3 separate regions of the Homo sapiens genome follow, and all the other regions are linked to region 3. Evidence: fine-mapped expression QTL. A gene starts in region 3. Each other region holds a variant in brackets. All regions are shown on one strand. Distances are from middle to middle. Region 1 overlaps QSOX2 (quiescin sulfhydryl oxidase 2). Region 2 overlaps QSOX2 (quiescin sulfhydryl oxidase 2). Region 3 holds the start of QSOX2 (quiescin sulfhydryl oxidase 2).

Region 1 (2,753 bases), 36 kb after region 3:
CTTTCCCAGGCTGCTTCTGTCCCCGGCTTTCTAGATGCTTCTCTCACTCCGGGGGCTCTTCGACCCCGTGGAAATGGGTGTGGCTCTTTCTTCCCCCATCGGTACCCACTGGTAGCCCGTTAGACTCTGAAGATGTTTTTGACTCTGGAAAGCTTGGAACGTAATTAATTTTTGATGAGGAATTTTAGTAGTATGGAAATCTGTTGTCCAAACGTAAACCAAACCTCTCAAAGTGCTTTGTTTTGTTAAAAAAAAATAATTAAATAGGGCACATGTATTTTCTCAGAGTTAAGTACTTCAAACTGTTCCTAAATCAGTGGCAGATTAAAATTAGGCTTAAAAATAATTCCACTGAGAAATCTTAATAGAGATGAATAGAAAATGCCACTAAACTATTGGTTTTTATTTAATCCACTGTGTTAGAAAAACATATTACAGCTGAAGCACTAAAGAAATTGGTTTTTCTTTGCCCTGAGCCTGACTGCCGGGGCCGGGGTCATGTGACGAAGGCGCTGTGTGTCTGCGGGGTTTGTTCCCTCGGTCAGCGCAGCTTCTCCGTCTCTCCGCCCTGGCAGCCTCTGCATCGCCGCCGCCCACAGAGCTCCCTGTGCTTTCCCCGAGCCCTCGGCTCTGAGGCAGTGGGACCAGGACCCTCGCCAGGCCTGCCTGGACCTGGAGCCCCTGCTGCTACCTGTGGCCCCAGCCCGCATGTGCCCCCACTACCCCAGTCATGAGACTGCAACAGAAAGGGGCCTTACAGCCCAGTGTGATTGTCACTCCTGAGATTCCCACTCCAGTCCCACCTCCAGCCTGTGCATTGAGACCCAAGCTCCTGGGAGGCCCCTCGGAGATGTGCCTGGGGTCTTCTGCCCAGGGCTGGCGCCTTATTTGACAGTCCTACATGAAGCTCTGGCAGCTTCTGACCAAGGTGCCACTGGTCTGTGCTTGTCCCCTCTGGCTTCGTGTGCAGCACCTGCTGCCGGTTGGCCGGATAAGCACGCAGTCAGTGACTGGCCCGAGTAGGGCATCTCTTGATTTCAGGCACGTCTCAAGTCCCCCAGACAAACGTGGTTGTGTTTACATTCACTTCTGGAAGCTCTGTGAGGGTGGCCAGGTGTCAGCAAGTCGGGTCGCAGGGGCTCCGAGAGCTAGGAGGCGCCGTG[C/T]GCCGCAGCTTCTGCATGACGGATGCCTGTTGGGCCTGGAAGTGAGCACATGTCACTTCAGAAACGAGTTTTGGAGATCTTGAAGGGATTTGTAGTCCGGAAAGGGCCAGTGTACCTGAAGTGCAGTGGAAATTCATTGCTGCCCCTCTGCCCTTTCCTGAAGGTGCACCTAAGGCCCACTGTCCATAGCACCCAGGTGGCCGGGGCTCTGTAGGTAGTGGGCCTCAGGTGCACCCTCAGGAAAGGGCAGAGGGGCAGCAGTGGGGGGAGGGGCACACAGGCAGCACTGTGCGGAGAAAGGCCTCCAGGTGAGAGCTGCATGCTCCGTTTTGGAAGTGGAGTGCTGGGTGGTTTGGGACAGGTGTGGTCTGGGAAGTGGCGGAGGCCGAGCGTGTAGCGTCTCCTCACTTGCAGGCTATGGGAACCGGCAGAGGGGAACACGTGCGCAGGGGCCTGCAGAAGCAGGATGTTATCTGGGCCGAACTGCAAGGGACGGGTGGTGGGAAGGGCAGGGAGGGAGGCCTGGCAGGACCCTGGGCCAGGGCAGTGGAGGCCCGTGGTGGGTGGGAGTGGGAGTCCGGTTGCCGCACGCTGCACGTGGCTGCACAAAGCCTCCTTCCCTCTGGCTCTCCCGCTTCCTTTTCTTCCTAGGCCATCTGAGTGAGGATCCCCGGTTTCCAAAGCTTCAGTGGCCCACTCCGGACCTCTGCCCAGCCTGCCATGAGGAAATTAAGGGCCTGGCCAGCTGGGATGAAGGCCACGTGCTCACATTCTTGAAGCAGCACTATGGCCGCGACAACCTCTTAGACACGTATTCCGCAGACCAGGGGGATTCCAGTGAAGGAGGAACCCTGGCCAGGGGTGAGGAAGAGGAGAAAAGACTCACTCCCCCAGAGGTGTCCCATGGAGACCGAGACACCCAGAGCGTCCGTCCACCTGGTGCACTGGGCCCCAGGCCTGCCCTTCCAGAGAGCTTGCATCACAGCTTGGACGGGAAACTCCAGAGTCTGGATGGGCCCGGGGCCCACAAGGAGGTGGGCGGGGCCGCACCCTTCCTCGGGGTTGACTTCTCCAGCCTGGACATGAGTCTCTGTGTCGTGCTGTACGTGGCTTCATCCCTGTTCCTCATGGTGATGTACTTCTTCTTCCGGGTGAGGTCCAGGCGGTGGAAGGTCAAGCACCACCACCCGGCCGTGTGAGTGCCCGGGTGCTGCCAGCCACGGCGGAAGCTCCCTTGGAGGCAGCCCTGCCCCGTGCCACCTGCAGCTTTAATATTTATGATCAGGGATTTTATAAACATGCGGGCCTGGTTTCACATCGGATGGCACCTTTTGGCTTCAAAGTCCTGGTTTTACAAACGCTCTTCTAACAAGGGAAGAACACGGGGTAATTTTGTGGGGATATTTGCATTCCTGGCGTACTCAAGTCTGTTCATGCTCCTTTTGCAGGTCTTACAGCAAAAAGACTTCTGTATTTTTACTCTTCTAGATGTGAAAAGAGGGTGCAGAGTCCAGGCCAGATAGTCTTCCCCACACACTTTCATCTCGTTTCCTCCACTCCGCCCCATCCTGCAGGGCCTTGTTTTTGTAT
Region 2 (2,753 bases), 27 kb after region 3:
CTGAGATGAGAGGATTACTTGAGCCCAGGAGTCTGAGACCAGCCCAGGTTGATAGTGAGACTCCAGCCTATGACAAATAAAACATTAGCCGGGCGTGGTGGAGTATGTCTGTGGCTACATCTACTCAAGGGGCTGAGGTGGGAGGATCATTTGAGCCCAGGAGGTTGAGGCTGCAGTGAGCTGAAATTGCACCACTGCACTCCAGCCTGGGCAACAGAGAAAGATCCTGTCTCAAAAATAGATAAATGAGTGAAAATACAAAAGATAAAGCTGGAATTCAGGGTAACCACAGAGGCCATTGAGCTTGTTGGGAGATGCTCTGAGTGCTTGGGGGCCTGGCTCTGCCAACGAGGTGGCCCATTCCAGGCCTGGGGCACAGCACTGCACTTGGCAGAGCGGCCTGAACCACTCCCAGATGTTTGTTTAGTGTTAAAAGTATCATCTAGACAACTTCTTAGTGTCAAATAATGTTAATATTTTTATAGATATTTTAATGTTTTTGCAAATAGCACTGCTACATTCTGTCTTTGGAAACAAGCTCCACGTCACACTGAAGTGCTCAATAATGGCATTGAGGGTGTCCTCAGAAGGCAGCTCCACCCTGTCCACACAGCGTGGGCACACAGGGGGCTCAGCTCCACCCTGTCCACACAGGGTGGGCACGCAGGGAGCTCAGGGGCCTGACATCAGGGAGGGGCTGACGTCCACCCCAGGCCCCGACTTCCAGATGCCTCACTCAGGGCTGGCAGATTGTGGGCGCGTCGGTGAAGGCTCTTAGGCGTGTTGGAAATCGCAGTCAGAATAAAGCTCATCTTGGCAGATGCTCAACCCAGCTTTACAAAACGCCTTAAGGTCCCCACAAACATAAATGAGTCATAGTACTTATTACAACTGGAACTGGTTGTAAATCTGTGGATTTGGTGTGTCTCCTCTTATCCCCCAGGTGGAAGCGCAGCCGGAGCCCAGGCGGGGTGTCAGCTGTTCCCACTGACTCCCATGCCCCAATAAATGCCCAAAGGATGAAAGGGGTGGCCCAGAGCTGTCCTGAATGCCACGGCTCCTACTTTAGGATTTTATAAAGGAGGCTCTTCTCACCTTTGCCCTCCCCTCTCTCACAGCGTGAAGCCTCTGCGGGCCTTCTTTTCGTCTTATTTGAAGTCATTGCCGGATGTGAGGAAAAAATCGCTTCCCTTGCCTGAAAAGCCACACAAAGAAGAAAATTCAGAAATCGTGGTTTGGAGAGAATTTGACAAGCAAGTGTTCCTCTTGAACTGAAGCCCCCGGAGACAGTGCGTGTAGACCGAAGGCTGCGTGCTTGCAGGGCGGGTTTACTCAGAAACCCACCCCAGCCAGTGAGGGCCGCTCAGGAGCCCTCCCAGGGGCCCTGGGAGTCCGTGGGGAGGAGCCAGGACAGGGAGACTTGCTGTGGAGGGAAAGGTTGGGCATTCCCTGACGCTGCCATATCCCGTCCTAG[G/A]TCGAAGCTGTACACGGTGGACCTGGAGTCAGGGCTACACTACCTCCTGCGGGTGGAGCTGGCAGCCCACAAGTCCCTGGCCGGAGCAGAGCTGAAGACGCTCAAGGACTTTGTGACTGTCTTGGCCAAGGTTTGGGACGGTGCTGGTCTGGGCTGCATGTGGGAATTTGGCTCTGCACAGAGTGGGCCCTGGGGGGCGTCGGACACTGCGGGGGCTCCGCCAGCTCCGCTGAGGTGCTCTCCACCTTGCTTTGTCGCCCAGGCCCACGCCCCAACTCATTCCACCCATTTCCCGAGTGCCTCCTGCGTCCACTGCTGTTCCCAGCACTGGGGCTGGGGCGGTGGGTGTAGAGAGGGGCGGGGGTGTGAGCCGAGCACCTGCTGGAAAAGCCCAGCTCTGGCTGCCTGGAGAGTAGATGGAGGAGGGAGCGGAGGCCCACACACACCTCAGCTGGCTCTCAGAGGAGCGCTGCACGGGGGCTGGGGGGAGAGAGAGAGGGAGAGGCAAGGGCTGTGCAGATCCAGGTGGGGTGTGCATCTGCCCCACCAGCCAGGTTCAGGGAGGGGTCCTGGGAGCTTCACGCTCAGCACCATCACCAGCACAGATGTGGTGTCTGAGACCACTGAGGGGGTCGCCAGGAGCGGGCAGAGATGCCACCCAACAGAGCTCAGGCCTGGCCGTGCCCAGGGTCAGGCTGAAGAGGACCAGCCAGGGAGGTGGCCAGGTGTAACTCCATGAGCTCGGTTGCTTGTTACTGTCTAAATGACAAGAAGGCTTAGGCTTAAAATATTTATCTTGCCAAAAATAAGATGCATGATAGAATAATTTATAGTGAGCACTTTGGATAGAGTTTACTTACAAAGTGATTTGTGAAAAGTACAGGAAATCTTGAAGGACTGGAGGTGCCTCAGATGAATGCATGAACATTGCCCAGGCAGCTTTTTCCCCCACGGTGCCATCCAGAGTTCAGAAATCTCTAGCTGGCCTCATTTCCTTTAAGAAAGTGTCCTGCTAATCTGTCCATCATATTAGTGGAGGACAGTGTGGCTCTTAGTGGTGGTGGCCGCCGGCCAGCTAATTCGCTGGAGTCGCACAGCTGTCGCTAGGCAGACCTGCTCTCCTCTCCCGGCTTCTCCGTCTTCCCCTTAGTCTAGTTAGGCTTGGAGCTTTTACACTTGTGCTCTGGGCAACTCCTGAGGCCAGGGTATTAATAAGTTATTCTTAATATTTTTCTGAAGTTTACTTGGATGTCTAAAATAAATTTGATTCTGGTAAATT
Region 3 (2,753 bases):
CAGGTTGTGAGGCCCCCTGGGTCTCGCTCGGGCTCTCAGCTTTTCTTCCCTCCCACGCTTCCCCCAGCTTGCTCCGCTCCCACCAGGTCCGGCTCCTTGCTGTTCCTCCAGCGTGCTCAGCACCCTTCTGCCCCAGGGCCTTTGCATGTGTGCCTCCTCCCTCACCTCCTTCTCCATTCGGGTCACCTTCTCAAAGACCTCCCCACCCTCCTCTGTACGGCAGCCCTGCTGGCACCTGCTTCCGTGTCCGGCTTCATTGCTTTTCATAGCACGCGGTGGCTGCTTTACGCGTTGGTTTGTTTGGGGTCTGCCCAAATGCAGGCCAGGGACACTGGGGGCTCGGTTTTGTTCTTGATTTGTCTCCAGGGCTTGGCACAGAGCAGAAGCCAGGAAACGTGGGTGATGGAAGGAAACATGAACAGGGAGACGCAGGACGTGAGGAAAAGGGAGCAGACGCCTTGGCCAGGGGCCCTCTGGGGAGAATCCTCTCATCTGGGGTTAACCATTGTTAGCAGCAAAACCTTTTAAACAAAATCTTACACAGAACCCCACAATACAGTTATCTATTTATTTTGAGACAAGGTCTCGCTCTGTCATCCAGGCTGGAGTGCAGTGGCAGAGTCACGGCTCACTGCAGCCTCAAGCTCCCAGGCTCAAGCCATCCTCCACCTTAGCCCCTCAAGTAGCTGGGACTACAGGTGTGCACCACCATGCCCGGCTTTTTTCTTTTTTTTAAGAGATGGGCTCTCGCTATGTTGCCCAGGCTCGCCCACTCCCTTGTTTTGTTTTGGTCACACAGTTCAGAGAAAATCTTGACATGTGTAAAAATTAGGAATAGGAACAAAAAAAAAAATCAGGTATCCTGTTCAATGAAGCAAAAAAGTCATATGATTTCATTTCCAAACCGTGAAGCTGCATTCGACTGGAACATCCTAAAAGGTAGCACACAACACATCTGACTTTGAGTGGATGTTTTGCTGCATTTTCTAAGCGTTCCAATATCATATTAAAAAGTCGAGGCTGGCTTGCAGACCCTCTGAAGCCCCAGGTGGGGTTGCCAAGTAAAAGAACCCCGGAATAGTTTTTTACGTCTAAGAATGTCTTGTTAAATTTGTATTTCAGGCATGGCACAGACCTAGGCTGAAAAACCGACTCACTGTTTGTCTGAAATTCACGTTGAACCTGGCGTCGTGCACTTCCATTTGCTAAATGTGGCCACCTGGCCCTGTTCAGGGAAGGGGTTTGGGGAACGCGCGGCGGGGTGGGGCGGGGCCTGGGCGGAGCCTGCCGCGCCTGGGCGGGGAGATGGCGTCATCAGACTCTTGGGGGCGGGGCTGCCACGCATGGGCGGGGGCGGGGGCGGGGAGAGAGGGCGGGGTCAGACGTGAGGGGGCGGGGCGGAACAGAACTGGGCGCGCGGGGGCGGGGCCGGGCGCGCCGGCGCACGTGACGGTGGTTGCCAGGGTGAAAGTTCAGCGCGCCGGCGGCACTTCCAACATGGCGGCGGCCGGGGCGGCGGTGGCGCGCAGCCCGGGAATCGGAGCGGGACCTGCGCTGAGAGCCCGGCGCTCGCCCCCGCCGCGGGCCGCACGGCTGCCGCGGCTGCTAGTGCTGCTAGCGGCGGCGGCGGTGGGGCCGGGCGCGGGCGGTGCGGCGCGGCTGTACCGCGCGGGCGAGGACGCCGTGTGGGTGCTGGACAGCGGCAGCGTGCGCGGGGCCACCGCCAACAGCTCGGCCGCGTGGCTCGTGCAGTTCTACTCGTCGTGGTGTGGCCACTGCATCGGCTACGCGCCCACTTGGCGGGCCCTGGCTGGGGATGTGCGAGGTGAGGCGCGCCCCCGCGCGGGGACCCCCCGACCCCCGGGACCGCGGCCTTCCGGGACCCCTTGCGACCGCCCCAGAAGGCGGGTCCCGGGGCCCCTCCCCCGTATTTCTTTCCTTACCGCAGAGCCAGTCCCTGCCCCACAGAGGCACCCGACTCGGACCAACCCTGGCCTTTCCAGGGGCGGGAGACTAAGCCAGCTGCTCCCCATGTCTCTCCCAGTTAATCCCCGTTAGATCCTGACGAGTTGGGCTGTCTGAAGTCAAAATGAAACCATTCTCCCGCAGCCCTCACCGCACGCTTGGGGATAGGGAAGCCCTCCCGTATCCCAGCTCTCAAAATACCTATGTTTTGAGCCCCAAGAACTTCATTGACCTTCCAGGCCTCCTACCCTACCTGTTTCCTAGCGTCCACACACCCCATCCCCAGTGCCCAGAATTCCTGTTCTCTGAGGATCCCTCATTCCTATTCCACACTCGTAGCCACCCCATTCCCTTTGAACCTTCATCATTAACTTTCTGGTTCGGATCGCTGGCCATATAGTGGGTGCTCAAAGTGAACCCACAACTTAGAAGTCCAAATACTCTGGAGACTTCTCTATAATACCCCAAAACAACCTATAAAGCAATTTTTTTAACTCTACAAAGAATTTCATTGGTGGGCTCCTTGATCACAGATGCACAGCCTTTGAGAAATCTTTCACCAAACTGCTGGTAGTGTTCCGCACTTTATTGTTTAGTGCTTTCATCTGGTCGCACGTTGTTAACCAGTCACGAAGTTACTCGCCTGCTCTACAGGTTAGAGTTGGCGTGGGAGGGGGCATTCACAACACCCTTCCCTTAAAATGGTATTTAAATCACTGAAGTAGGAGGTCCTCCCGACCCAGTGAGGTTTGGCAGGACTTCCTGTGTTGTGCTAACCTCAAATTACA

Evidence for each region. PIP is the estimated chance that this variant, and not a neighbour inherited with it, causes the effect.
Region 1: its variant is fine-mapped to the expression of QSOX2 in whole blood (TOPMed, PIP 0.99).
Region 2: its variant is fine-mapped to the expression of QSOX2 in fibroblasts (GTEx, PIP above 0.99). The same link has a PIP of 0.9 or more in lung and monocytes.

Annotation. Positions count from the first base shown.
Region 1 is chr9:136,208,337-136,211,089 of GRCh38, reverse strand. QSOX2 (quiescin sulfhydryl oxidase 2) reads left to right here. Exons shown (of 12, transcript NM_181701.4): 12 at 1,815-2,753. The coding sequence ends at 2,362. Among named protein-coding and RNA genes, the nearest start is that of LHX3, 4.6 kb to the right of the region's middle. RefSeq lists enhancers at 1,554-2,103, 2,104-2,655. The variant C/T (reference allele first, on the strand shown) is at 1,164.
Region 2 is chr9:136,217,530-136,220,282 of GRCh38, reverse strand. It overlaps QSOX2 (quiescin sulfhydryl oxidase 2), which reads left to right. Exons shown (of 12, transcript NM_181701.4): 7 at 1,119-1,253; 8 at 1,475-1,604. Among named protein-coding and RNA genes, the nearest start is that of LHX3, 14 kb to the right of the region's middle. The variant G/A (reference allele first, on the strand shown) is at 1,475.
Region 3 is chr9:136,244,548-136,247,300 of GRCh38, reverse strand. QSOX2 (quiescin sulfhydryl oxidase 2) reads left to right here and starts at 1,489. Exons shown (of 12, transcript NM_181701.4): 1 at 1,489-1,825. The coding sequence starts at 1,498. RefSeq lists silencers at 1,252-1,521, 1,552-1,961.